4 linked regions of the Homo sapiens genome follow. The protein of the gene in region 3 interacts with the protein of the main gene of each other region in a biochemical or structural test. Each region holds a gene or a part of one and is shown on either strand. Other genes may lie near its edges.

Region 1 (7,026 bases), on a different chromosome or scaffold from region 3:
GAAAGCTGTACAAAGCTCTTTTTTCCTACAAACACAGTTTTCTGCTATAATTAAACTAGGCAAATAAGATTATCTTCTGCCTCTCCACTGTCAGGTTATGTATCTCAATATACTTTTAATTTGTCTGTGCCTAAATTCCTCCATGGGGATAAGTGGTGAACAGGAAGTCTTTCTTTTTTTTTTTTTGCCAATGGAAGGGGGAATGAAAAATAACAAAAATAAATGAGGCCATCTTCCTAAGATGGGATGTAATGATGGCACTCCAAGCTTCTAATGAGTGCTGACTTATATTTCCAAGTTTTCTCTCCACCTTGGGATCATCTCTCCTGAGCCATGCCAGAACCACTGGTGAGCAGGAAAAGCAAGTTTCTGCTCTGGACTGGCTCAGACACCCCTCTGCTGTCCTAGATAAACAGGACCACATGAGTTCAGTTTTTATTTCATGAGGCGGAAGGCACTTCCAATGTCTAAATCTGAAATCATCCCACCTGACTGTAACTAGAAGTAGTAGCAGCTGGCTCCTCGCTGACATGGGCACTGCTGATGGCAGTGGTTGGCAAAGAGTGGTCCCCAGACCAGCAGCATGACAGTATCCAGGAACACATTAGACATGTCAACTGCCCACTGCCACCTGCCCCAAGCTCTTTGCCTCAGAAACTCTGGCAGAGGTGGGTCCCAGCCCTGGGCGTTGTAAGCAGCCTTCGAGTGATTCTGATACACGCTGAAATCTGAGAGCCACTGGCTTCACCTGATAAACATCTGAGGTCATGGGAATGCCCTGCTGGGCTAACCTGTGTATTACAACGCTTTATGTAAAGGTACTGGCTCTCCACCAACAGTACCTACTTCTGTTATTTCTGCCACCTGGCAAAGGCCCCAAACACTAAACTCCAGGGCATTCTTTTTCCTACTTTCTTGGGCAAATTACTTCTGTCCCACTCTCTTTGTCCTCAAAAAAGGTATGATGACAATATCCATTTCATTGGGTCAAGGACTTAGAAAGTGGCTGGCATGCAGTTAGCCATCAACAAGTGTGAATCCCTGTGATTCCGACATCTCTGCCAAAAGGTCTAATCAGAACTAGGAATATAGCAAAATAAAATTCGCTTCCTGAATGCTTACCACCTGACTTTTTCTCCCCACTCAATTCCAGAGCCCTGAGTGAGGACATCCAGGAATGACAGAGAATGCACCTGGCTCCACTGTCTTTCAGTATTTACTTGTTCAGTCTGCAACCTGAGCGCCCACTGAATGCCTGCCGACATGTGGAAAAAGCCATTCTATAAATTTGTACAGCCTCCAACCAGGTCTTTCCGGACAAAAGCCATCCAATTCTGGGGCATAAAGCCTCACACACCTCAAGAGAGGTACAGGAGGAAGGTGATGAATATTAACAAAAGTTGTCATAATAACAGCTAACATTTATGTTGTGGTTACCATGCCAGGCATTCAGTACCTTATAAATGTTAATATAGTCCCCACAATAACCCTGTAAGATGGCTGCTGTTATGACACCTACCAGAGAGTTGGGGAAACTGAGGTGCAGAAGGTTTGCATAACCTGCCTAAGGTCCCACAGCTTCTACACGATGAGGCTGAGATCCAAACCCAGGGTCCAGGGTCAGGGCTCTTCACCACTGTACTATAAGACAGAGAGCTATTGCTTATCTAGGCATCTTCTAACTATTTATCACCAATCCCACAGCACTGATTTTGAGATACTTATGTTTGGGCACAATATCCACTGTCATGGGATTCAATGCTGGGCCCTCAAGGCTCCCAACAGAAATGATAATTCTACTTGGTTTCTCCAGCGCCTTCTCCCCTCCCTAAACTAGTTCCACCCAAGCCAAATCAAAACTTCACAGAGCAGAATCTCTCTCCTCTCATAACTCCCCTGGCACTGCACCACTTCACCTCTAATTATATACCATCTGTCACATAGAGTTCTCTAATTGTTTCTTGCACATTAGCCTTTTCTTCCCCAGTCGACTGTAAAATTCTTTGGAAGTACCCATATTTTTTGTGAAACCCAACAAAACTAGGCAGAAACATGGGCTTGCAAATGTAGTCTTAGAGAGTGTTACACATTTATTGGCTAGCTAATTCACTTTGCTTTTCTGACTCTTCTTTATTATCAACCCTTAAAAACAGACAAAAGTATTAAGTTTATGAGATTTATTTTATTTATTTTTTGAAACAGGGTCTTGCTCTGTCATTCAGGCTGGAGTACAGTGGCATGGTCACAGCTCATCACAGGCTCAACCTCCAGGCTCGAACAAGCCTCCCACATCAGCCCCCCCGCCCCAAGTAGCTGGGACTACAGGTGCACACCACCACAACTGGCTAATTTTATGTATTTATTTATTTATTTATTTAGTAGAGACAGGGACTCACCGTGTTGCCCAGACTGGCCTCAAACTTCTGGGCTCAAGTGATCCTCCCACCTCGGCCTCCCAAAGTGTTGGGATTACAGGTGTGAACTACCATACCCAGACAGTTTATGCTATTTAAAACCAGCATTAGGGGAGGTATTCCACCAACATAACCTAAGCAACAACTCTGTTTCAAGATCTGTATTCCAAGCATCTCCTACAATATCTTTTAAACCCTTCAGCAGCCTCCCTAAGCGGCGGGGGGTGTTGTTATTCCAGTTTGAGGAAAGAGGAACCAGGGCCTACCAGGGGTGAGTAATTTCACCAATGTCATTACAGGCTGATAAATGAAGGAAGATTTTAAAAGATCTGTCCCAAAACACCTATTAGCCTCCCTCTAATGTGGAGACTAAGGTGCCAAGATTCAAATTATCCTCAAAGCAACCTTTATAAAAAATGTTATCATGACAGAGAAAATTTGAAACTCTATTAAAAAGTCATTTTTAAAAAGATGAAATGATGACCATGTTCACGGACAGAATTACAATAAGACAGAAAATCTTACAATATTAGACAGAAAAATCATATTATATATTCAATGCAATGCCCATCACACTTTCCTAACTTTGTTGAGAACTTAATAAGCATTCCAAAATGCATATGGAAGTATAAACATCCACAAATAACCAAGTCAAAGTATAAAGAAAAGTAGGGGCTCATTCTGCCATATAAAACACACTGCAATGCTATAATAAAAAAAATTGGGGGGGCATAAAAACAGACAGATGATTGGTATCAGTATGTCGCAAGTAATGGGGACAGTTTCAGTTTGGGGTGATAAAAAATGTTCTGGAAATGCATAGTGGTGACAACAATGTAAATGTACTTGATGCCACTGAATTATACACTTAAAATGGTTAAATGATAAATTTTATGTTATGTGTATTTTATCATAATTTAAAAAGATTTTTAAAAATCAGTATGTTGAATGAAAGGAACCAGACACAAAATGGTACTATACTGTATGGTCCATTTACATAAAATTCTAGAAAACACAAACTAAACTACAGTGACAGCATATCAGTGGTTGCTTAAGTCTGGGGACAAAGGGATTACAAAGGGGCCCAAGGGCAATTTTGGGGTGATGGAAATGCTCTGTATCTTCACTGTGATGGTTTCACAGGTATGTACATCTGTCAAAAGTAATCAAGCTGTACACTTTGAATGGATTTAGTTTACCTATATAAGTTACAACTCTTATTTTTATTTATGTATTTATTTATTTATGAGACAGGGTCTCACTCTGTCACCCAGGATGGAGTGCAGTGGTGCAATCTGGGCTCACTGCAAACTCCGCCTCCTGAGCTCAAGCAATCCTCCCACCTCAGTCTCCCGAGTAGCTAGGACTATACCAATTAGCCAGGCTAATTTTTGTATTTTTTGTTCAGACAGGGTTTTGACCAGGCTGTTCTCTGTTCTTGAATTCCTGGGCTCAAGCAATCCACCTGCTTCAGCCTCCCAAAATGCTGGGATTACAGGTGTGAGCCACTGCACCTGGCCCTGGCTTAATTTTTTTTTTTTTTTTTGTAGAGACAGGGTCTCTCCATGTTGCCCAGGCTGGTCTTGAACTCCTGGACTCAAACAATCCTCCCACCTCAGTCTCCCAAAGTGCTGGCATTACAGGCATTGAGCCACCACGCTCAGCCTTAATAACTCTTAATAAAGTTGAAAAAGTAAACTAATATGTGTCTGTGGGAATCTGAGGTATGATAAAAGTGGCTCCACAAAACTATATGAAGGAAAGAATACACTGTTTAATAGATGATTTAGGAAAACTGTCTCACAGAATGGAAAGGAAAAAAATAATGTGAGATTCCTTTGTTTTCCCATATATGAAGATGAACTTCAAATAGAATAAAGCCCTCAATGTGAAAGGTAAAACTGGAAAGCTGACAGAATACAGAATATCTTTGTAATCTTGGGGTAAGGAAAAATATCTTATACTCTTAAAGTGCAACCTAAGGCAAAAATTAATGGACTGGGGCTATATCAAAACTAAAAATTTCTCAAAGTTACCATTGACAAAGTTGATAAACAGAAGACAGGATGAGATTAACATCTAGAATATACCAAAAAAATCTTCAAATCACCACATTAGGAAAAGCAAGTATGGCTAGTCAAAGAAATTATAATCACTAATGAATATATTAAAAGAGTTCAAATTTACTAAGAAATCATATAAGTTCACAAAAAGAAAACCCAATGAGATCCCACTTTACAGCCACCAAACATTGGTAAAACTAGAAAGTTGGTTAATAACAAATTTGAGTAAGAACGTGGGGAATCAGGAACCCTTGTGCACTGATGTGGAACAGAAAGCAGCTGAGCAACTCTGGAGAGTAATTTAGCAGTGTTTAGTAAAAACAGGTATGTTTGTACACCATTACTCAGCCATCCCACTCCTAAGTACATACCCTTAGAGCAGCGGTTCTCAAACTTTCCCATGTATCAGAATCTCCAACCTGGGCATGCTGAAACACAGTTCAGGGTTTCTGATTCAGGAATTCTGGAATGTTAGGACCCAAGAATCTGTATTTCTAACAGTTCAGAGTTGATGCCGATGCTGCCAGGTGTGGACCATACTTTAAGAACCACTACCCTAGGGATATTCTCAACCAGATCATTAAGAAAATGCACACAGACCCAGCTACTCAGGAGGCTGAGGTAGGAGAGTCTCTTGAGCCTAAGAGGCAGAGGCTGCAGTGAGCCAAGATCATGCCACTGCACACCTGCCTGGGCGACAGACCGAGACTCTGTCTCAAAAAAAAGAAAAAAAAGAAAGAAAATGCATACAGGATGTTTGCTAGTGGTAGCAGGAGTGGAGGTGAGTTAAGCATCCATCATTAGGGAAATGGGTAAGTAAAAGTAGGAGACACATAAAAGACCAGCCCTACAAAGCAGCAGTCAAGGCAACGCACTAGATAAACCTGCACTAACAAGGATCTCACAAATAAAATGTTAAGGTTCTTCTGACTTTTATGAATGCCTGCAAATTTCCATAATAAAAAGCTCTAATGTTGAATAAAAAAAGAATGAAATCTATAGCACAGAACCACTTATGTAAATCAAAAACAAACAAAGTAACTCAACATCTTTAACAAAATACATACATATGCAAGAACATATCCTGCACTGGAAAGAAGGCTCCTCTGGGGGAGAGGGGCCTGGGGGGTGCTGGGAGGGGAATGAAGGAGAAAAACGTAAAACAAGCAAGGGGCTTTTGCACAGTGAGAGGATCCTGTGCCAAGAACTGGAATGTGAGCTCAGCTCTCAGCACCAGGAGTCTAAAAGGTAAATCACCCAAATTATCTAAATCTCCACTCACCTGTCTGTACGTATAATGGTTGCTTCAGTTAAAGCCCTTGTGGCTTTACATCATTAAGGGAGTAGATCAGCTTGTCACTGAGAGTGGAGGGGAATCTTTCTCAATACAAGCTTGGGGTGATTTCAGGCCCCCAAAATCAAACCTGCTACTGAGTCCTGGATTTTCCCTTTGACATATTAGTTTAAAAAGACACTGGTGCTCTTGGCTTTTGGCAGAGTGTGTGTGTCTCTTTCTCTGTGTCTTTCTCTTCGCTGTCTGTGTGAGTCTCTGTGTCTGTGGATCTGTGTGTGATGTGTTTATCTGTGGAGATGGAGGACTGGGAGAACAGCAAAGCATTCCAGCAGGGCCTGAGCCAAACTTATTCATCAGCACCATTCAATGCAGCTTTACTGAATCCAGAAGTCAGTTATAAAACCAAGCTACCTTCCTGGGGCTCCGCCCACCCTTCTCTTTCCCTTTCTTCACTCTCTCCTCCCTGACATCCAATGCTGCCTCCCAACTCCCACATCCAAGTGGGCTGATCCAAAATAAGGTCCTCTTGTGACTGGGTAGCTTAATGGAGGTAACAACCTTTACAGGGATGCTCTTAGAGAGGAGAAATAGCCATTTATATTCCTGACCAAAAGCCTTTAATAGGAAAGCCAAAAATCTTGAAGACCAGCATGTCATAAAAGTTCCTCCAGAAGAGACTGTTATGGCTATAGCTACCATCCAAAAAAGGCATAGCCATCTATAACATGTTATGCCCCCACAAGGACACAAGAGCCACTGAATAGTTTGCCATATGAAGTGGTGGGAAAGTGTATATGGCAATCAAAAAATAAAAATCACCATTGATCAAATTTGTGTGAGAAAATGCAACAGATTCTTCTGACAGGATTGCTTTAAAAAGCAAGCTCATGCCAAGAAAGTACATCTTTAGGAGAAGAAGAAATACCTAAACAATTGGAGGAAGGAACAGACAGTGATGGTAAAGAGCAGAATGAACTGGCAGCACACTCATGCCTCCCTCCTAAAGACCAGGGCATTGATGCCTGTGTGCAAACAATCCAGAATTTTTATTCCCAAAATACTCTTTCAGCTTTTCTATAGCAGCACTTTTCAGAGTTTTCCTGAAATGTTATGTATAAAATGAAGTTTTCTAAGTTAAAGCATTTGACATCCAACAGGAGCACTTTTTAGTTAAAAATAATAATAATAATACTGCTAGGTGCAGTGACTCACACCTGTAATCGCAGCACTTTGAGAGGCCAAGGTGAGAGGATTA
Region 2 (7,745 bases), on a different chromosome or scaffold from region 3:
TCTGAATAATAATATCGGGAACCAGAGTCTCCATTTTCAACAGCAAAACTAACTTCCGTTACAAATGACTGAGAAGAACCATACTCTCTAGGGACATCTGCTAGACTTCTGGCAAGATAAGAAGGTGCAGATAATCTGTTGCTTTCTCTTCTCATTATTTCATGAGGTGTTCTTTGAATTGGAGTTCTAAGGAAACTCTGGTTTCTTGAAACTACATCTCCAGAAGTTGAAAAGGCATTAGGGCTTGAATCTGGAAGACAGATATCAGTTCGTCTTGGAATTGTTGGACCATGCCGGATGAATGAAGGCATAAGATCTACAATAAAACAAAGGATAAAATTACCCTTTCATCATTAAGTAACAAAAGTTTTCGAAATTTGTTCATTTATGTCTACCACCCCAAAATCAAAATGTCAGTCAACTTAAGAAAACACAATTTTAAATTTTGGTTTAGGATGGTACTTGGGCATTTTAAATTGAGGAAGATTAATATTTTCCCAATCAAATGAATTTATATAACTTGCATTAATGGACTATGCGTAAAAGCTCAGCTAGAATAAAATGTATTCTGCATACTACCATACATAATATGATAAAATATCAATAATCTTATCTATGAACTACACATTAATGAAATGCTCATGAATTAATGTATAAAAATAGGAAATAATATAACAAATTGATAGTTTCTAGTTAAGTAGTTTATTTTGTTGTTCTCACTTCATTTTAGAAACTGCCAAAAATCCTTCTTGAAGCAAACACAATTTCAAAAATAGAACTTAATGCTACTCCCAAATATGTAAAAGTGGATTCCTTTAAAAATTAAAAAATTAGTAGCTCTTTCTTCTCTTGGAATTACCTAGCACTAGCACAGTAATCAAAAGCTAGAAAGCCAAAAATTTATGTATGAAAATTGAAAATAAAAAGCTCTCATTTCAAAGAAGCACACAAATGTAGAAGTGGCTCAAAAAACCAAGCCTGAAACTATGTAATTATAATTCAAAATAGTAGATAATAGAACAACAGCTTTTAGGATACAGTACTTTTAAACACGAAACTTGAAAACAGCTTAAGACATTCCCAGTTAGAAAGCAAATACCTTTAAAACAAGACAAAAACCTGAATATGCAGACCCTCTTATTATTCATCAAGTAAACAATATTGGAGACACTCATATTAATAAGCTTCAGAAACTAACACTGGACAGAAACAAATATCTGAATAAATAAGGCTCAACACTTGATGTAACGACAACAAAACAAAGTAGATCAAAAGTTATTTGCTTAACTGTGACAAACATTAACAAAACTGCACGTTCTACACATGTACCCCAGAACTTAAAGTATAATAAAAAGTGTGACAAACATAATTCACGATTTCAAGTAATGTCTGATAAACTTTATTTGCAGCAAACAGCAAGCTATCACTTAAAAACAGCCAGAAACCTAACTGCATGTGTGACTGAAAATCAAGTTGTTAAAAAAAAAAAAAAACAACTTAAAAATCAAGTTTCGAGTTACTGATGTACTCAACTGACATATATTTTGTTGAAAGTATTGCAAGTACCACCATAAATCTGGAAGGCTGACAATGTGGTTATGATGGAAAAACATGCTCTCCCATCTGTGTGATCTTGGGCAAATACTAGAAACCTAACTTTCCCAATTACAATATGAGGTAATACTTAAGTCACAAGGTTACTACCAGCTTCCAAGAAGGAAACTTAAGCAAAGGGCCCAGGGCGCAGTAAGAGCACCAAAATACCAGCTCCATGCCTCACAAATGTCCTGAACACACAAGAATTAAAAATTCAAGAGATTCAACTCAAAAATCAAATACTTACATTAAGAAGAAAAGCAGCGGGGGACCGGAGGTGGGGATTGGGAGTGGGATCTACCCTATTAAAAAAAAAAACTTTTCGAGGGGGGGGTTCTCTAATACGATAGAAATTATTTTGAGTTGCCTTCTTGGAATCTCACGAATATAGCCAAATACAAAGGCTTTTGGCTCTCTGCTCTGCTGTGTAAGAGTGATGAGGCTTTGGGTGGCGGCTACAAGAACGACGGTATGCTTTTCACCTTCTCAAGTCTGCATCCGGCAGCAGGACTAAGGAATTCTGCCCCAGAGTTCGCACAACTTGCAGCACAGTCGAGAGACACCCGCAATGTTTGCAAACATGACGCACATCTCGACGCATCTAAAAGAGTAAAAAGTGTCCCTGTCTAATTACTTTTACTCCTATAGCATTAGGTGATAAGCAATTTAAATGTTTCCTACTCTCTCTTCCAGTAATCAAAACCAACAACTCTGCCTGGTGGGGCGAGGAAGTCTGTTATTTTTAGGGGGTGCTCTTGGGGGGGTTAGGCGCGGGGGGGACTAACCCAAGTTTCTTACTCTTATGGGCTTTCAATCAACGAATACCACTTCAGACACAAGAAAATCTCAAAACCAGTATTTCACGCGACCAAGGACGAAGGAGAAGCCCTGGAGACCCGCCGGCGCCCCCGCCAGGGTCCCCGGAGCACCTGGCCGCCTGGGCCAGGTGTGGGCACGCCCCGCCTGACACTCACTCCGAAGCAGAGGCGACGTCTCCTTCTTCACGTACTTCCCCTGCACCTCGGCCGGCTTGGACACTTCGTTTTTGGTTTTCTTTCGGGACAGCATCCTTCTCGACGAGGCCCGAGGCCGCGCTGAACTGCCTCCCTAGGGCTCCGCGCCGGGCGCCGGCCGTCTCCGCCGCCACCTCCGCCGGCGCCGCCGCCTCCTTCCCTCCCGAGCCGCCGCCTCCGCCGCCGCCTGTCCGGAGCCCGGGGTCGCCCGCAGGGACTGCCGCATGTTCAGGGCGCTAAGCGCGCCGGCCGCCGCTCAGTCGCTGGTCAGTTCCTTCCCGGAAGTCGGCCCGCTCTGCGACGCTGCTCGGGGACGCCGTGAGGAAAGCCCAGCGACGCCGGGCCAGGGCCAGGGCCATGGTCCGCCGCGGGCCGCCGAATAACCGCTACCACTACCGCCGCCGCCGCCTACATCCCGTAAACTTTCCCCGCGGCCGCTGGGAATTCTGGGAAGCTCGACGCAGCGCGGGCCGCCGCTGCCCCTCCCCCACCGCGGCTCCAGGCGCGGCTCCGGCGGCGGGACTCGGGTGCCGGCGCTCTAGGCTACCGGGCCGTCCCCGCCGAGCTGCGGCTGTCCTCACTCATCCTCAGCGAGAAGCAGGTCCTGCCGACTGAGAAGATGAAGGACGAAACCTGCCCCGCTGAGTGCGGGAGTTCGTCGCATGCGCATGTCGTGGAACCTACTCTCCACGAGTTTTTATTGTTGTTGCTTTTGTACCCCCTCGGGATCCCTAGCGGAGGCAGTGACTCTCTTTCCCCCCAAGACGTTGTTCCCTGTTTGAAGGTGTTCTTCCTAATGTTTCCTAGGCTGCTGAATTCAGCTCTCTAAAAAATGCGGAATGCTAACCATGACTCCCAGGCAAGTGCTACACCAAAGCATCTATTCTGCTGGAAACGTTCATGCTGATTAACTAGAAATAAGTTGATCCTCTACTGAGTATCAGGGAGTGCGTTTTTCTATAACAGGAAAAAACGGAAGAATGCAAGATGGAATTTCCAGTACCTCTTTTTAAGATACAATTGGTGTTAGCATATTACAATTATTTTATTGCATCATCACTATCATTAGTATGATTAATAGCCACATATTTCCTCCTGACGTTATGTGTTATGATCTTAGAATTTTGAAGACTTTGACCACTGCGAGTCGGGACCGGGAATTTTCTATCTAAAATAATAGACTCTACTTCCTTCTATATAACTTAGCAAGACTGCCAAATGTACAGGATAACATTTGGAAAATAAGATTGGATTCATCCCCTAGTGACCAAATTAATGCTTTAATAATGAGGAATGCTTTCCCTGAGATCTAAAACATCTCACAAGAGATCTAAGACATATATCACAATTAACAAAAGACATGGAATTTTTTACCACGTAAGATTAAGAAGATGGTCAAATGTTTTACCATGAGCAAACAAAGGAGACATTTGATCTAGTGTCTGTCTCCATATGTTCCCTTGGTGCAGATCTCCCACAATTCATTCATTAACCAGGAAATACTCATTACCCACTGCGCTAGTCGTTTGTGATAGAGCAATAAGCAAAACAGACAAAAATCCCTACTGTCATGGGAAAGAGAAAAAAATGACAAAAAATAAGCAAAACATACTATGTTAGATAGTGATAAGTGATGAAGTGAAAATAAGAGAGGACTCACAATTTTTGAGAGGGTAATAGAGGGACCAGAGAAGGCTCATGAGGAGGTGACATTGGAGTTAAGTGACAGAGTGAGGAAATTGGCCATGCAGCTAACTGGAGGAACAATATTCCAGGCAGAAAGAACAGCAAGTGCAAAGTCGCTGCAAGTGGCCATGTTCCTGGCAGATTGGAGGAACAGTAAGAGGGTTTATGTACTGGAAAAGACGGGGAGACGAATGGGGAATGCAGTTAGAGAGTAACAATAGCCACGGCACCTAGGGCTTTGTAGGCCATTGTAAGGAATGTTACTTTGAGCAGAGGAGTGACATGATCTGAGTTAATGTTTTCATAGGACTGCTTTGGATGCTGTGTGGAGAGTAGACAATGGAGCTAAGGGCAAAAGGGAGATCAGTCAGAAGTTATTGCTGGCTTGGACCCAGGCAATAATAGGTGGAGAGGTAAGTGGACATATTTTAGACATATTTTAAAGAAAGCCAACCAAATTTGCTGACATTGAATATGGAGTGTGGGAGTATCAATCACTGCCATGGGTATGAAAATCTTAATAAACAGAATTGGAACTCACTAGAAGCAGAGTGTACTCTGAGAGAAACATTAGAAAAACAGTTACTTGTTCCTGTGGTTCAGAAATAAGGACGAGTCCTAAAGCGTTGATAGTGTGCAGGGAGAAGAAAGAGTGATGAAACTTAAGTGAGAGCACAATGGGGTTTTGTTACACATCAGGGTATGAAGGCGGGAGCTGAAGGAGGAAGGGGGAGCCAAAGAAGTGCCAGGTTTCTGCCTAAGGCTTACCTCAGAGAAGGACAAAAGGATATTAGCATCTTGTTAATAAAGGCAACTCTTCACACCTGGAGTTTTCCCAGAGCCTGAAGTACGGGGACACCTTTCACATGTGCGGAGGAAAGAATCCTAGAATTTTATAGTTGAAAAAGAATTCTGAGATTGCCTAGGCTCACCTCATCAACATCAAAAAGGAACGAGAAAAATTAAGTGTTTTGTCTCAGATTACATTCCTGGTTAATGACAGAATAGCATCAGAACTGGAGTTTTCAATTCCCTTTTTTTCCCCCCTGAGGCAGAGTCTTGCTCTATCCCTCAGGCAGGAGTGCAGTAGCACTATCTCAGCTCACTGCAACTGCTGCCTCTCAGGTTCAAGCGATCCTCCTACCTTGGCCTCCTGACTAGCTAGGATTACAAGCGCCCGCCACCACACCTGGCTATTTTTTGTATTTTTAGTAGAGACTGGATTTCATCATGTTGGCCAGGCTGGTCCCGAACTCCTGGCCTCAAGTGATCTGCCCGCCTCGGCCTCCCAAAGTGCTGCAATTGTAGGCGTGAGCCACCAGGCCAGCCTCAATTTCCGTTTGGGGCTCTTTACTGCTACGGAACATTCAGAATCCCACTAATGTGAGTCCAGACTGTTTCTAACAGTTGTTTTGAAAGCCGTCTGTGTTCCTTAGAGAGTACTCCCTTTTACAATGCTATTTAATTTCTGTGGATTATAGCAGAGAGAAAGCCTTAATTAGGTGCTCTATTTAAGACAACTAATTTGCCTTTTTATCAAGGAGGGTACATTCCAGAATCAACAATGTGCAGGCAGCATTAGCTATAGCAATGCACAACAAATATGTGAACTTTGAATTTGAATCCTTAAATCTAAAAGCTTTGAATTCATGTTTGTTTTCTAGAAATTCCTTGACTTCTGAGAATTTTTATTAAGGAATTCAGATTTGCTGTAGTTCTACGGAGCTGTAATTCTCCAGACATTGCCTTCAATAATGCTAATACTGCATTCCATAATAGAGATTTTTTTTTTCCCCTTACAGTTACATTCTTAGTGGAGAAAACTGGCAATTAGGGAGCTTCTCATGTTTTAACAACTTTTTTAAAAAATTAATTTAGTATTAAAATTTATTTTAGTGGAGCCTATAAGGTATGACCCTGGGCTAACCTCATAGCATTCTGAGTTCTTAGTTGTCTCATCTGAAAATGAAGAAAGTGAACCATTTGTTTTTTTTTTTTTTTTTTTTTTGAGACAAAGTCTTGCTCTGTCGCCCAGGCTGGAGTGCAGTGGCATGATCTCGGCTCACTGCAAGCTCCGCTTCCCGGGTTCAGGCCATTCTCCTGCCTCAGCCTCCCTAGTAGCTGGGACTACAGGCGCCTGCCACCACACTCGGCTGATTTTTTGTAGTTTTAGTGGAGACGGGGTTTCACCGTGTTAGCCAGGATGGTCTCGATCTCCTGACCTCGTGATCCACCCACCTTGGCCTCCCAAAGTGCTGGGATTACCGGCGTGAGCCACTGTGCCCGGCCAAACCCTTTGATTTCTAAAGTGTCTTTCAGTCCTGGAGTTTTCTGCCATGTAGGCAGAAGGGAATATGCAAAAATAAAAACTTACCTTCATAGGATAAGAGAAATGTTGGTGATTTTCTTTCTTTAAAAAGTTTGTTCTTTATTCAAGTATTAAAGAAAATATTAAAATATCAGCATTATATAAAATCATGATTAGCATAAAAATAAAATTTCGTGCCAGATTGTTACTTTCAAAGACAGCTAAGGTCTTTATGCTATGTTGACTTCCTCGTTGGAAGCATGTAAAATTTTAAAGGGTGAACTATTCAGTGAAAGATTATCCAAGAAAGACAACCAAAATGGAAATAAGCCCTACATATGGCGCCTCAGAAAAAAAAAAAAAAAAAGGAAAAAAGGAGAGGAACTTCTAGTCTACTCTCCAGCTCACTCTTCTTCTTCACATAACAAGATAAACTTAATCTGTCTCAGGAAGATGTAATAATTATGCCAATTATAGCTCTTCAAGTCTCCAAAATTTTGCTATTAAAATATGGGAGGGGGCTGGGCGAGATGGCCTGCGTCTATAATCCCAGCACTTTGGGAGGCCAAGGCGGGTGGATCACCTGAGGTCAGGAGTTTGAGACCAGCCTGGCCAACATGGTGAAACCCCATCTCTACTAAAAATACAAAAATTACCGGGGTGTGGTGATGTGTGCCTGTAATCCCAGCTACTCTGGAGGCTGAGGCAGGAGAATCGCTTGAACTAGGGAGGCAGAGGTTGCAGTGGGCTGAGATCGCACCACTGCACTCCAGCCTGAGCAACAGAGTGAGACTCTGTCTCAAAAAAATAAAAAATAAAATATGGGAGGGTAAATTCCTAAGTGTCCTTTAGGCAGAAACTTTGGTTGTTTCCTATGAAGGATAAGGGTGTGTAATGTCTACACAGATCTGAAGATATTATATAATTGCTTAATATTAGCAATTTAGTAGGGTTCCTAAACTCCTGTTATGTAAGATGAATCATCCCCCCAGTAACATAAAGAATTAGTATCACAATTCTTTTTTTTTTTTTTTTTTTGAGACGGAGTCTCGCTCTTTCGCCCAGGCTGGAGTGCAGTGGCGCGATCTCGGTTTACTGCAAGCTCCGCCTTCCGGGTTCACGCCATTCTCCTACCTCAGCCT
Region 3 (7,026 bases):
TTTGACATTTGTGTGTGTGTGTGATTAAGTGATGACAGATTGGTGTCTCATATAGGAGTTAATAATTTTAAAAAATGAGTTGCCATTAGATTAATGTTATAGTGGAAGGCGTAGAGTGCATTCCTGGGATGCTGGCCATCCACATGGCCATCTGACTTAGGAGAGGAGCATCCACCAGTATTTGGTCCATGGATGCTCTGTTGATCAGGCTTGTTCATTTATGAGCAAGTGCTGAAACCGTCTGGAACCTGGGGAAGTCCCAGATAAGAGAACTGTATTATCAGAGTCAGGCTGTTTTGGTAATAGTGTTTTTTCTGTGAAGAGTCATGGTATAAAATATTATTATGAATCACTTATCAAAATATTTTTATAGAAATGTTGATAATTCAGTAATACTTCTTAGGTGAAATTCTGTTTTATTGTGATAATTCAAAGATTGCTGATGAAATTCGTGATTCCCATCATTACATTTGTGAATCCATTTCACAAATATATTTTGACCACCTCTTGGTTATCAGGCACCAGAGATGTAATAGCGCCTTAAGTTCAAGTTGTTTTTAATAGCCCCGGATCAAAAACAAACAAAAAAGCACTTAGATTGTTTCAAAGATGTATTCGAGCCGTCATATGCTAAATGACGAGTTAATGGGTGCAGCACACCAGCATGGCACATGTATACATATGTAACTAACCTGCACATTGTGCACATGTACCCTAAAACTTAAAGTATAATAATAATTAAAAAAAAAGAAAAAAAAAGTTTGTCAAAGTATTATCAGAGGTTTGCAGCTGTCTATCTCAAGGCAGTGGCAATTTCCTTTGTTATGCTGTGGTCCCTGAAGTAGTTGAAATAGTGACTTTTGCATTTTGTAAACCACAGAGAGTCAACACTTCAAAGAAACATACTTGATCTTCCTTTGTATAAGCTGTTTATACAACTTTGATTATACTTGAGAAGTGAGGTATTGTCCAATGTTTATACAATTACAATTCAGGACTTTACCAAAAAAACCCTGGCATATGAGATGTTCGTTCTGACTTCTGAGTTTATAGAAGTTTCAGTTCTGAAGTTTAAGAGGAGTTTCACTTCATCCCTTTTCATTTTGAAGGTAGGAGTTTTTATGATGTCATTGGTATTTAATTTTTAGGACCTTTTGATTTTCAAAGGTCACTGTGATCATTTTGTTCTGTTGATATCAAGTTAAGGCAGTTTTGACTTGGAGCAGTTCTCCATTTCTCTAGTTTATAGTCCTTGATATTCATAAACTATAAGATTGTCCTTCTGAGATCAGTGTTTATTGGTAGATACACTTGATGTGGTCAGGGTTTTTGTTGGTTTGTTTTATTTTTTGTCTTCTAATTTTAATCTGTTTTATTTAGGAAGGTACACATTTGTGTGTGTGTGTGTGTGTGTGTATGTGTGTGTATTTAAGTCTTTTGTTGTAATAATTGATATTATCCAGCTAGTCTAAACCTTTTTTTTTCTACAAAGAGGTCTCCAGTGTGACTACTTCCATATTTCACCGTTTCCTCAGCTCTCTATTCTTTGTTGTTCTTTGTAGTTTCAGGAAGCCATTGTGTAGACTACACACACACACACACACACACACACACACACACACACACACATATTCCTTGGCAAGTTCCTTCTTTAAGCTCATTAGTAATTTTCAGAGATCTCAGAGTTTTAAAAAAATGTTAATTTATAACCTCCCATGTTTGTTATGATTGTCTAGCATAGTCAGAAATCTGAATTATCTGGAAATTGTGAGCAGCCAAGTACCTTTGATTTTTGGGACTAGTCAAAGGTATGTATCTACTCATAGGAAGGTCTTTGTGAGAATATCTGAAACTCACAGCTGCCTAGTGATTTTTCACTTTTGATCATATCTAAATGTACACTTTCCACTTTCTGTTTCTGTGATACCTACAGAATTTATGTGTTTTGACAAACTTACAAAAAACTTGCTAATGGAAGAGCAAAGGTTTCCCGTGTCTTCCTTAGTCTGCAGTCCAATTCATAGTTATGTTTCAATTCATAGTTACCTTACATTAAACACCTTTTCTGAAGAGATAATTACATCATTTTAATTCATGAAATCTCAAGATTTAAATAGATTTTGAAGGATACATCGAATGCTTGAATCTACAGCATTTCAGCCACATGACTTTTTTTTTTTTTTTTTTTTTTTTTGAGACAGTCTCTCTCTGTCACCCAAGCTTGAGCGTAGTGGCGCAATTTCGGTTCACTGCAAACTCTGCCTCCTGGGTTCACGCCATTCTTATGCTTCAGCGTCCTGAGTAGCTGGGATTACAGGCATGCGTTACCACGCCCAGCTAATTTTTTTGTATTTTTAGTGGAGACGGGGTTTCACCATGTTAGCCAGGATGGTCTCGATCTCCTGATCTCGTGATCTGCCTGTATCGGCCTCCCAAGAAACCTTGTTTCTTAAAACAGTCTTAACTAGTGAAGTCTGTATAGAGAAGTTCCTGAGATGCTAATTATAAAAAAAAGATATATTTTATGTTCTAGTTCCTAGCAAATAAAATGTATTTTGTGTTTATATTTCTTTATTCACAGGCAGCTGAAAAAGTTGGATGAAGATAGTTTAACCAAACAACCAGAAGAAGTATTTGATGTCTTAGAGAAACTTGGAGAAGGGTGAGTGTAAAGAAACTATAGGTAGGTCATTGGGTCCCAGTCTTTTTCCTGCCCCAGAAGAAGCAGAAGGATATGAACCTTTCAGCATTGTTCTAGGTGGGGTGGAAGGTAAATTTACAGCTTGTGATGTCCTTCTTCGCTTTACTCCAATCCCTATTATAGACAGATTTAGTGATTCCTGGTCTTTTTAACACGAAGAATATCTATTGTTTTCTCTTTTGTAGGATCTGTATGATTTTATCTACTTAACAGATAGCACTAATTAGATTAAAATTCTATAAGAAACTTTTTAATTTGCTGTTCATAATTTCTGATTGGTATGCAATAACTGTTTCAATGAAAATCAATGTAATTTAGTATTTTAATATTTGCACCTTTGTGAAATATAGTAAATAAATTAAGCACTATCACCACCTTCACAGCTACTTAGGAGATCCACAATCCTGGGTTGGGAGCCAGTGGATTTCCTGAAACACAGATTTGTTAATGCGTTTATAAAATACTGATGAAATGATATTAGTAATGTGCAGTGACCATCATTGACTTTCATGATACAATTAAGTTTACATAATTTTTATACTTTTATATATCATTTTAATTCAATCCTGTGTATTTATTCCTTCTTCTGTAATGACCAGGAAATTAAAATGTTAATGACACCATTTCTTAAGTTTTTCTTGTTAATTTTTGAATAGGCGATACAATCATATGATTCAAAATTTAAAAAAATATTAAGACGCATACAATAAAAAAAAAAAAAAACTGCCTCCTACCTCTCTCTGTCTCTTAGCCACCCAGAATCACCAAGGGTAGCGGCTTCTTGTGTGTCTTTCAGAGACAGGCTATGTGTGTGCGAGCGCACACTCGTGTTTGTGTGTGTGTGTGTCTGTATTTTTAATCCCTTGGGAGTATTTCTGGATCAAGGGAAGACCTGACATACTAACTTGTAAAAACAACTACTGACTGATGACTATATGCTCTTTAAAATAATTTCCTTTATGTCATTAGATTATTTTTTGGGTTTAGTATTTTTTATGTTAGGAGACAGATTTACAACGTTAAACCCAATCCTGGATTACATGAAATGGTTTTTTTATGATTTACCTCCTTGTAAAAAACATGAGTCATCGTCTTTTTGTAAGTTGGAAAAATACTCTTTGGAATCCAGCAAGAAATCAAGCAGAGAAGGGAAGTAAAAATGACACACCAGCTGTGCTGTGAAAAGACAAGTCCAAGATGAATCTGAAGACTGCCAGTTGACTGGCATCATTAAAGGTATGGGGAAATGACAGTCCCTCTACATCTGTTGCCTGCCATTTTCAGCTTTAGCTTGCCATCCTTGCTATTTTCCCTAAGGCAGCAAGGCTGTGACCTTTAATCTAACAATGCTCATAAGTTATACTTAGAATAAGTTCAAGACTGATAGGCATAATTGACTATGTAACTTATTTCTCTCATTTCTAATACAGTTTGCTCTTACTACTACAATGTGAGGCTGACCTGGGTTAAAATCCTTGCTCTACTGTTTACTGGTCATAATAGACAAGTGGGCTTAAGCAAATTGCTTACTATTTTGGAGGCTCACAATCCTCATCTGTAAAGTTGGGATAATAATATATCAATTCATAGAGTTGTGTTATTACCTGAGGTAATTGGGGTAAAGTATAGTGCTTATCACAATAATAAATGTTCAGTAAGTGGCAACTATTGCTATTCTATTTTAAATGTATCAACTGAAGCATTTTCAAGACCTCATCATGTCAAGTCTTAAAGTATTTTTAGGTGTTGTTATAGGTAGCTCTGAGCTGATTGGGTTTGTGGAATGTCAAAGGAAGACTATAGACAGAGAATATATCAGAAATATAATGTAAACAAAAAATAAGCTAATTATGATTTTTTAAATTGTATTTTATTTATTTGTTTGTTTATTTATTTTTGTAGAGACGAGGTCTCACTGTGTTGCCCAGGCTGGTCTTGAACTCTTGGCCTTAAGTGATCCTCCTGCCTCAGCCTCCCAAAGTGCTAGGATTAGAGACGTGAACCACTGCACCTGGACAAATTGCGTTTTAGATCTATGGATGTCTTCTGCAAGGAATGTGGAAATTTCCCTATGAAGATATCACCAGGGAGAAAACAAAGCTTCAGATCTTTCTTCCCATACTATCACCTTATTGTTCTTCTAAATAATACCAGATTTCTGGTATTTCTTGGATTTCTGTTATTCTGACTGAATGAACCTAAGCAAGCCTCATTTAACTAGGAATATTTTGAAGGAAGACCTTCACTGCACTTCTTTTCCAAACATGTGACACAATGCTATTCTTTTTTTTTGAGATTAAGTCTTGCTCTGTCACCAGGCTGGAGTGCAATGTCACAATCTCGGCTCACTGCAACCTCCGCCTCCCAGGTTCAAGCGATTCCCCTGCCTCAGCCTCCTGAGTAGCTGGGACTATAGGCACACACCACCACGCCCGACTTATTTTTTGTATTTTAGTAGAGATGGGGTTTCACCATATTGGCCAGGATGGTCTTGATCTCGTGATCTTGTGATCTGCCTGCCTCAGCCTCCCAAATTGCTGGAATTACAGATGTGAGCCACCACGCCTGGCCAATGCTATTCTTAAATTGTTCGGGAGGATGAATGGTTTGTGAACTCTCACTGACTTGTATCTTGTGAAATGAGCTATGGCTAAAAAAACTGTTGGATTCTGGAGGCTGCAATCATTCTGTGTTATGAGGATCATATGGATCTGTGGCAGAGTAGAGCCAAAGCTCCAGACCAGGATGAGTGGAGAGCACTTGGGAAGTGTTTTCAAGTGGAGCCTAGCACCTTTTTTCTTCTACTTAAAGTTGTACACATTGACTCATTTGAATTTTTATCATAGAATGATAACAAAAGCATCTTGCCCATGGTTTCATAAAAAATGAGTGCTATTGTTAAGACTTGTATCTGATTAATTTGGCCTCAGATACTGTGGTATTTCCATTTTTCTACATAGATCCTTGCCTTGCATGGCTTATGTAAAACACCTACTTCTCCATTCTCTGCTGTCAGTTGTAATTCATTGAATCATCTCATTTTGTTGTAGGGAATCAAGTTTTAAGGGACTTGCTTGTGAGTATGATTGCTGAAATCTTCTAACCACCCCCTATCCCTGCCTTCAGATTACTGTAGATGCAGTATATGGAATCAGGAATCTTAACTTCATGTGAGCTATTGGAGTTTTCCTTGCTATCAGGATGCATAGGGAGGTATGAAGAGTGTTCTGGTCAAGATTGCTGAGTGAGTGTATGAAGAGAACTTTCTAATATATAAGAATAATGAGTGAAAATTATTTTAAATATAAGGATATATAGACAGCTATGGACAAGGGATAGGAAAGAAATCTAAATAATCAGCGGAGACTAAAGCATGCCTTATCCTTGTCAGGAGATTGCATTTGAGCTTCCTGCATGAAGTTGGGGGCTGGAACTCGGCTCTCCATCTGTGAACTAAAGCTGAAATAAATTTGCCTGACCACAACCAGAAAGTGTCATTTGCCTGTGGCCTAGGGAAAAAATGGATATACTGGTTCGATAATAGGAACTGAGCTTGGATTGTATTTAAGTATGGTATCTTGAAGGGCAAAAACCCCAAACTCTGAATATAAGACCTGGTTTAAGTTGTATATCCCAGACTACTGTACTGAGAAAACCATGAAATCATCGACAGTGAGTGTGGTATAGAGGAAAATCATTCAAGAGAAAATGAAATCCATGCAAGGAAATCTACTGCCATGAGATAATCAGCAGAATGGGAGAATTCACACTGAAGGAAAAAGAAATAATGAAGCAATCTCAAAAACAATTTAATATAATTACAATTTTCAAAAAGATCAAGGAGGAGATAACATTTTTAAAAGGACATCAGATTATTGACATGATTATTAACATATTTGCCCAAAGGCAGATAAAAAGTTGGGAATCTTGACAATGAAAACTACAACAATTGAAGTTTTAAAAGCCCAATAAATTGGATAAACAGTAAACTAGACAAACTGAAAGGAGAATTTGTGAATTGAAAGATAGAAATGAGACTGATCACAACATGCAGAAATACAGTGTTGGAAACCAGGAAGACAACATAGATTGAGGAGGTCTAATACAGTTTTGGTAGGAATTCTAAAAGAAGATCCTAGAAGTGGTAGAGGAAATAATCACATAATAATCCTGAGAGTTTTTCATTCTTGAGGAAAGACACGAGCCCTCAGATTGAAGAAGTTTATGAAGTGCCAGATCAACTCCTAGTTACATTACAGTAGAATAGTAGACTGTTAAGGACAAAGGAAACCTTAAAAACTATGGGGAGATTACCCATGGAAAAT
Region 4 (7,026 bases), on a different chromosome or scaffold from region 3:
GTAAGCCACCGTGCTTGGCTGGCACCACATTCTTAGATATGACACCAAAATACATGCAGTAAAAAGAAAAATAGACTAATTGGACTTCATCAAAATTAAACTTTTGTGTATCAAAGAACATTACCAAGAAAGTGAAAAGAATGGAAGAAGGTACTTGCAAATAATACATTTGATCTGGGTCCAGTATCCAGAATATATAAAGAACTCTTACAATTCAGCAACAAAAAGACAACCCAATTTTAAAATAGGCAAAGGACTTCTTTCTTTAAACAGAAGATATAAATGGCTAAAAAGCACATGAAAAGATGCTGAGCATCACTCGTTATTAGAGAAGTTCAAATCAAAACCACAAGTGGCAGTTAGATGTAGAATTACTGTGTGTCCCAGCAATTCCATTCCTAGGCGTATATCCAAAGAATTGCAAACTGATATTCAAAAAAACCAAATGTACACACATTCATAGCAGCACTATTCGCAATAGTCAAAAGGTAGAAACAAGCCACGTTTATCAGTGCTTGAATGGATAAACAAAATGTATATCAATACAATGAAATATTAGCCATGAAAAGGAATGAAGTGCCAGTACATACTACAGTATGGGTGAACCTCAGAAACATTATGCTAAGTGAAAGAAGTCAGATACAAAAGCTTATATGTTGTATGATTCTATTATATTAAATATCCAGAATAAGTAAATCCATAGAGATAGAAAGCATATCAGTGGTTGCCTGGGGCTGGGCGAAAGGGAGAGTGGGGAGCAACTGATTAATGGTTACAAGGTTTCCTTTTGAGGTGATGAAAATGTTTTAGAATTAGGTAGTGGTGATGGTTGCAGAACATGATGAATGTGTTAATTGCCATTAGTTTTTTACTTTAAAATGGTTAGTTTTATGTTATGAGAATTTCACCTCAAAGAAAATAGATGTCTTGAAGAGAGAATAGGATATACAAGTCTGAAATTCAGAGACTTTCAAACCGGAAATTGTAAATATGGGTGTTCTCAGTTTATAGAGGGTATTTAAAACCGTGGTACGGGTTAAGGTTATCTAAGGAGTGAGCAAAGAACAGATCTGAGGATTGAGTCCTGGGGCATTCCCAGTGTTTTAAGTTCCGAGACATGGGAAAGAACTCGCTCAGTACAGTGAGGAGTAGCAGTTGGGAACAGAGGAGAGGAGCATCTTAGTCTGACTTGGCCTTGCCCCATTATGCGTTATCTTCCTTTTACCCAAATTTTAGCCCAAAGACATTCTTACAGGTTTATTTCACTTCCATAATGAGGGCACCCCTAGTCAGTTCTGGACCACAGGTCATTTGTATTAATATGTAGTGAATCCTGTTTTGACTACACTCCTTAAGGGGAGTATAGTCTATAGGGGTTTACAGTTTCAGATTTGAAAGAAGTGTTTAGATCTAGTGAAATCTCACTTGAAATACTGGAATTTTCTCAATAATAGTGACTTTTATCATTTTTAGGGTTATTATCCCTTTTGAGAATCTAGCATAAGGACTCTTACCTGAAAAAAAAAAAAAAACAAAAAAAACATAGACACAATTTAGCATTCGAAGACAAAGATGTTTATGGGCCTTTATAGGCCCTGTGCATTCCTGACAGATGGGCATCTTTGCCCTTGCTAAAACACCTCTAATGATAGTCCTCCCCTTTGTGAGAAGACACGTGATGATTCTGGACGCTTTGGCTGTTGTTTCTTCCTTGTATTGAGTGGACATCTGCCTCCTGTAATTGAGGCCTTGGAGGTCCTAGTTTTGTTCCCAGGATCACACGAAGTCTCTGCCCTTTTCAACGTTAGACTCCTTTGAATGCTTCAAGACCAAATCATGAATTTCTTTTTAAAAAGATGTTTATTGAGATGCAATTCACATATAATTCACCCATGTAAAGTGTACGATTTGGGGTATATACATTAATTTTTAAAATTTTGGTAAAATACAACAGAATTTGCTAATTTAACCTTTAAGTGTGCAATTCAGTGGCGTTAATTACATTCACAGTGTTGTGCAACCTTCTCCACTATTTTCAAAACTTTTTCATTTATCCCAAACAAAAACTGTAACCATTAGGCAATAACCTCCCATTCCCCTGCCCTTCCAGCCTTTGGTAACCTCGAATCCACTTTCGGTCTTTATAAATTTGCCTGTTCTAGATTCCTCATATTGGTGGAATCATACAATATTTCTCCTTTTATGTCTGGCTTGTTTAACTTAATATGTTCAAGGTCTTTTTATCCAAATCAAACCTCCTCGTACTACATGATTTTAAGTTCTACTGTATTTGATAGTTTCCATTTCACTGTGCCCAGTGTTATTTATAACAAAGAAGTAGTTTCCAGAGGTGTTATTGAATTAATAACAGTATTTTTAGGGTTATTAGTTCTAACCCACCCCCCCCCCACCTTTTCTTCTATAAACAGGTTGTAGGGAAGGTTGATAAAAGGTGACATTGCCAGTCTAGTCTTCAAATGCTAACATTGTTAACAAACAATAAAGATGAATATATTTAATGCTATTAAAACAGTACATTTCCCAGTCATCAGTTATAAATTCCATGCATGCTTTTAGAAACAGCTATTTAGAAATAATTTAAACTTCAAGAGTGTAATTAATAAAGTGTATGGTGTGGAATCACATACCATAATAGTTCTTATTGTTTTAGAAAACGTGGCATTAATATGCTTCTTTTTTAAAAAAGTGAAATAATCAACCCAGCTTAGGTCAGTGACACGGTTTAAGTAAAAAAAAAAAAAAAAAGCCTAAGTCTTGATTGCCCCAGGGTGGCTTGCCTAATGCCAAGGCTTGCCACTGTGAGGCAGCTCACAGTGGAGCTCTTCCTAAACCAGGAGATGGTACAGGTAGAGCTAATGAATTGCTCTGATTAGAGTGAGATGGGCGTTGAAGCTCTCTTCTTCCTCCTCAGGCAGCTAGTACTAACTCACCCAAGATGGGTGAGGGCTTCCAAGGTTCTTCTGGCAATTTAATGAAGGCTGATTGAGAGCTGGTGTGCTCTACTTTGTGAAATGTAAAACAGTGGTTTTCTGGGGACTCGTGAGGGTGCCTGTTTGGGCTGTTATAACAAAATACCTTAGACTAGGTGATTTTTAAACAACAGAAATTTATTTCTCATAGTTCTGGAAGCTGGGAAGTCCAAGATAAAGTCACCAGCAGATTTGGCATCTGGTGAGGGCTCACTCTTGGCTTCTTAGATGGTGCCTTCTTGTTGTGTTCTCACATGGCGGAAGGGGCAAATAAGGCTTCCCCGTCATGACCTAAGTCATCTCCCAGATGCCCCACCTCCCAACACCACTGCACTGGGGATTGTTTCAATATGAATTTTGAGGGGATGCAGACATTCAGACCATAGCAATCCCCAAGATCCTTTCAGGGAGTCCACAATGTCAGAACTATTTTCATAATAACACTGATATTATTTGCATTTTTCATATTTGGTCTCTCAGGAGTGGACAGTGGAATTTTTGGGTTGCTACATAACATGATGGCATCATTGCTTTGATAAATTTTGTGTTGTGTTTTCTAGAATTTTCTAAATATTATTCAGATCTGAGTGTTCAGTAGACATTTTCTCAGAAATAAACAAGCCTGCCACTTCAAGGAGAACAACTGATAATTTGAGCATTCAAGTTGAAAATTAGAATTTTGGAAAATTTATGTGCCACTGTGAGCTTGACAGCTCTCTAATACTTAAAGACTTTTCTGGTGAGATCACTGATGATACTGATGTGTTTTTTTTTTTTTTTGTATAATGAATTGCATTAACATTTATATGGTATGTATAACTCACTGAACTAATATTTTCCAAATGACCAATTTATGGTTTTACAGAGACATACATGGATAAAAGTGCAAGATAGACTATGGGATTTTTTATGTACTAGGGCATGAAAAAGCTCATTGGTCTGGTCTCAGATGTCACATTTCAACTAATCTTGAAGAAACTACCACTTGTGGAGAATTCACAATTATATGGAAAAAAGAGGAGTATTGTAATAACCTTTTTAACTGCATATCGTTATGAGGCTAGATTTTCTTCATATATTTCAACCAAAACAACATATAGCAATAGATTAAATACAGAAGCAGATGTGAGAATCTAGCTGTCTTCTGTTAAGCTGGACGTTAAAGAGATTTGCAAAAATGAAGAAGTGTCATTTTTCTCACTAAATATTTTTGTTTTGGAAAATGCAATTTTTTATTAAAACGTTATTTGTGTTAACATAAGGTTGGTATTTTAATGAATTAATAAATATTTTTAAAATTTTTCTGATAAATGTTGTTAGGTAAAATCCACATAAAAGATCTTTGGAGTCCTCAATAATGTAATAGTGCAAAGGAATCCTGGGACTATGAAGTTTGAGAATTGCTGCTCTAAAATGTGAGCAGCAAATTTCAAACTTTTTTTTTTTTTGAGGGGTCTTACTCTGTCACTCAGGCTGGAGTGCAGTGGCAGGAGCATGGCTCACTGCAGCCTCAACCACCTGGGCTCAAGCAATCTTCCAGCCTCAGCCACCCAAATACCTGGGACTATAGGTGCCCATCACAACCCCCGGCTAATTTTTGAAAAAAATTTTTTTTAGAGACAGGGTCTCACCATGTTGCCCAGGCTGGTCTTGGACTCCTGAGCTGAAGCATTCCCCCCTTGTTCAGCCTCCCAAAGTCTTAGGATTGCAGATGTGAGACACCACGCCCAGCCTGAAGTACTTTCATATCAACTCATTTAATCTTCCAAACAATGGGGTGAGTTGTAATAATAGTACTTCTTTTTCCTTTTTTTTTTTTTTTTGAGACAGTGTCTCACTGTCACCCAGGCTAAAGTGCAATGACACGATCTCCAGTCATTGCAACCTCTGCCTCCTGCGCTCAAGTAATTCTCCTGCCTTATCCTCCCAAGTAGCTGGGACTGCAGGTACATACCACCATGCCTGGCTAATTTTTATATTTTTTGTAGAGACAGGGTTTCGCCATGTTGCCCAGGCTGGAACAGTACTTACGTAGTGTATTCTTTGTGACAGGCACTGCTCTGTTATATACTTCTCTGTTATATATACATTATTTCATGTTACCCTTGCAGTAAATTTTGAGGTAGTCCTTGCTTTACAGATGACCAAAGTAGGTACAGAGAGGTTAGCTAACTTTTTTAAAGGCCCTGCAGAAATGTCTAAAACCTTAAGAGCAGGTAGGACAGGATAAAATAGGTATTACCCGAACTTTTTTGACCGTGGAACCCTGTTTTTTTTTTGGAGACAGGTTCTTATTCTGTCACCCAGGCTGGAGTGCAGGAGCACAATCATTGCTCACTGCAGTCTCCATCTCCCAGGCTCAAACAATCCTCCCATCTCTGCCTCCCAAGTAGCTGGGGACCATAGGCGCACGCCACCACACTTGACTAATTTTTTAATTTTTTATAGAGACAAGGTCTCCCTATATTGTCCAGGCTGGTCTTGAACTCCTAGCCTCAAGTGATCCTCTTGCCTTGGCCTCTCAAAGTGCTGGTATTATGAGCCACCATGCCCGGTCCCTTTTTTTTTTTTTTTTTTAAATGTAACAGTTCTGACTGGGCATAGTCACTCAGGCCTGTAATCCCAGCACTTTGAGAGGCTGAGGCAGGAGGATGGCTTAAACCCAGGAGTTTGAACTTAGAATGAGCTATGATTGCACCAGTGTGCTACAGCCTGGGCGACAGATTGAGGCCCTGTCTCTCTCTCTCTTTTTTTTTTTTAGAAGCAATTCTTTGAACAGGATTCCTTGGAATACACTTTTAGAAATGCTGCATTAGTAAGAAACCAATGAGGGAAAAACATCAAAAACAAAACAAAGAAGTAATCAGTGATGGTTGACTAGTGCTGAAGGTGTTTAAGGTGTGTACAGAAAGTGGCTGCACGCAGTGGCTCACGCCTGTAATCCCAGCACTTTGTGAGGTTTAGGCGGGAGGATCGCTTGAGCCCGGGAGTTTGAGACCCACCTGGGCAACATAATGACACCTCTTCTCATTACTTTAAAAATGAAATAAAAGATAGGCCAGGCACGATGGCTCACGCCTGTAATCCCAGCACTTTGGGAGGCCGAGGCGGGTGGATCACCTGGTCAGGGGTTCGAGACCAGCCTGGCCAACATAGCGAAACCCCATCTCTACTAAAAGTACAAAAATTAACCGGGCATGGTGGGGGGTGCCTGTAATCCCAGCTACTCAGGAGGCTGAGGCAGTAGAGTAGCTTGAACCCAGGAGGCAGAGGTTGCAGGGAGCCAAGATTGTGCCACTGCACTCCAGCCTGAGCGACAAGAGCAAGACTCCACCAAAAAAAAAAAAAAAAAAAAAGAAAAGTTAAAAATGAAATAAAATCTGTACAGGAAAGTGACCGTTGGATTTGGCAGGATAGGGTCGTTAGTAATTTTCTTGAGCAGTTTCAGTGGAAAAGGGATAGAGTAGGAGCCTCCTTGGCATTGATTAAGGAGACAGTACAACAAGATAAGTGGATGCAGTCCAAATGGATGCTTTAACAAGTTTTGCTATAAAGAGGATCAGGATTAAGAGAGTTTTAAAGATGGGAGACATTAGGGCATGTTTACACTGTGGGAATAATATAGTAAGATAAATGTAGGGAGTTGAGATATTATACATGGAGAGGTGGAAAGTCTTAAATGCCTGGAGTTTTCTGTGTGCATACATATTCATACACATACACCCACATATATGTACACATGTGAGTCAGGAAAACTTTCCCTCAAGAAATGACATTTGCGCTAAGATCTGAAGGCTGAGTCATAGTTAACTGTGCATAGGAAGTGTATAAAAAGCAGCAAGAAGAGTGTAGTAGGCTGAGTAAACAGCGCAGGGAAGGCCCCAGGATAGAAGTGAACACAGTTGTTTATCCTGAGAGTAATGAGAAGCCACTAAAAGCTTAAGCATGGGAGAGACATTCTCAAATTGGCTTTAAAAAATGCTCTGCAGCACGGAGAAGGGGTTAGAGAAGGGCAGATGACCAGTTTGGAAGAGAT

What was found.
Region 1: of the proteins of STK4 (region 3) and SGMS1, one has a biochemical effect on the other in vitro, tested with the Homo sapiens proteins (one study listed by BioGRID).
Region 2: the proteins of STK4 (region 3) and SAV1 form a complex in vitro, tested with the Homo sapiens proteins (one study listed by IntAct).
Region 4: the proteins of STK4 (region 3) and THAP12 form a complex in vitro, tested with the Homo sapiens proteins (one study listed by BioGRID).

Annotation. Positions count from the first base shown.
Region 1 is NC_000010.11:50,613,939-50,620,964, forward strand, and holds part of SGMS1 (phosphatidylcholine:ceramide cholinephosphotransferase 1), read right to left. Parts: intron 1-7,026. UniProt on the Homo sapiens protein: Major sphingomyelin synthase at the Golgi apparatus.
Region 2 is NC_000014.9:50,665,304-50,673,048, forward strand, and holds the start of SAV1 (protein salvador homolog 1), read right to left. Parts: upstream 3,004-7,745; 5' UTR 2,665-3,003; coding exon 2,571-2,664; intron 2,198-2,570; exon of another isoform or gene 2,079-2,197; intron 317-2,078; coding exon 1-316. UniProt on the Homo sapiens protein: Regulator of STK3/MST2 and STK4/MST1 in the Hippo signaling pathway which plays a pivotal role in organ size control and tumor suppression by restricting proliferation and promoting apoptosis.
Region 3 is NC_000020.11:44,969,497-44,976,522, forward strand, and holds part of STK4 (serine/threonine-protein kinase 4), read left to right. Parts: exon of another isoform or gene 1-1,109; intron 1,110-2,581; coding exon 2,582-2,662; exon of another isoform or gene 2,663-3,424; intron 3,425-3,786; exon of another isoform or gene 3,787-3,937; intron 3,938-4,603; exon of another isoform or gene 4,604-5,837; coding exon of another isoform or gene 5,838-5,914; exon of another isoform or gene 5,915-5,916; coding exon of another isoform or gene 5,917-5,945; exon of another isoform or gene 5,946-6,188; intron 6,189-7,026. UniProt on the Homo sapiens protein: Stress-activated, pro-apoptotic kinase which, following caspase-cleavage, enters the nucleus and induces chromatin condensation followed by internucleosomal DNA fragmentation.
Region 4 is NC_000011.10:76,371,131-76,378,156, reverse strand, and holds part of THAP12 (52 kDa repressor of the inhibitor of the protein kinase), read left to right. Parts: intron 1-7,026. UniProt on the Homo sapiens protein: Upstream regulator of interferon-induced serine/threonine protein kinase R (PKR). May block the PKR-inhibitory function of DNAJC3, resulting in restoration of kinase activity and suppression of cell growth.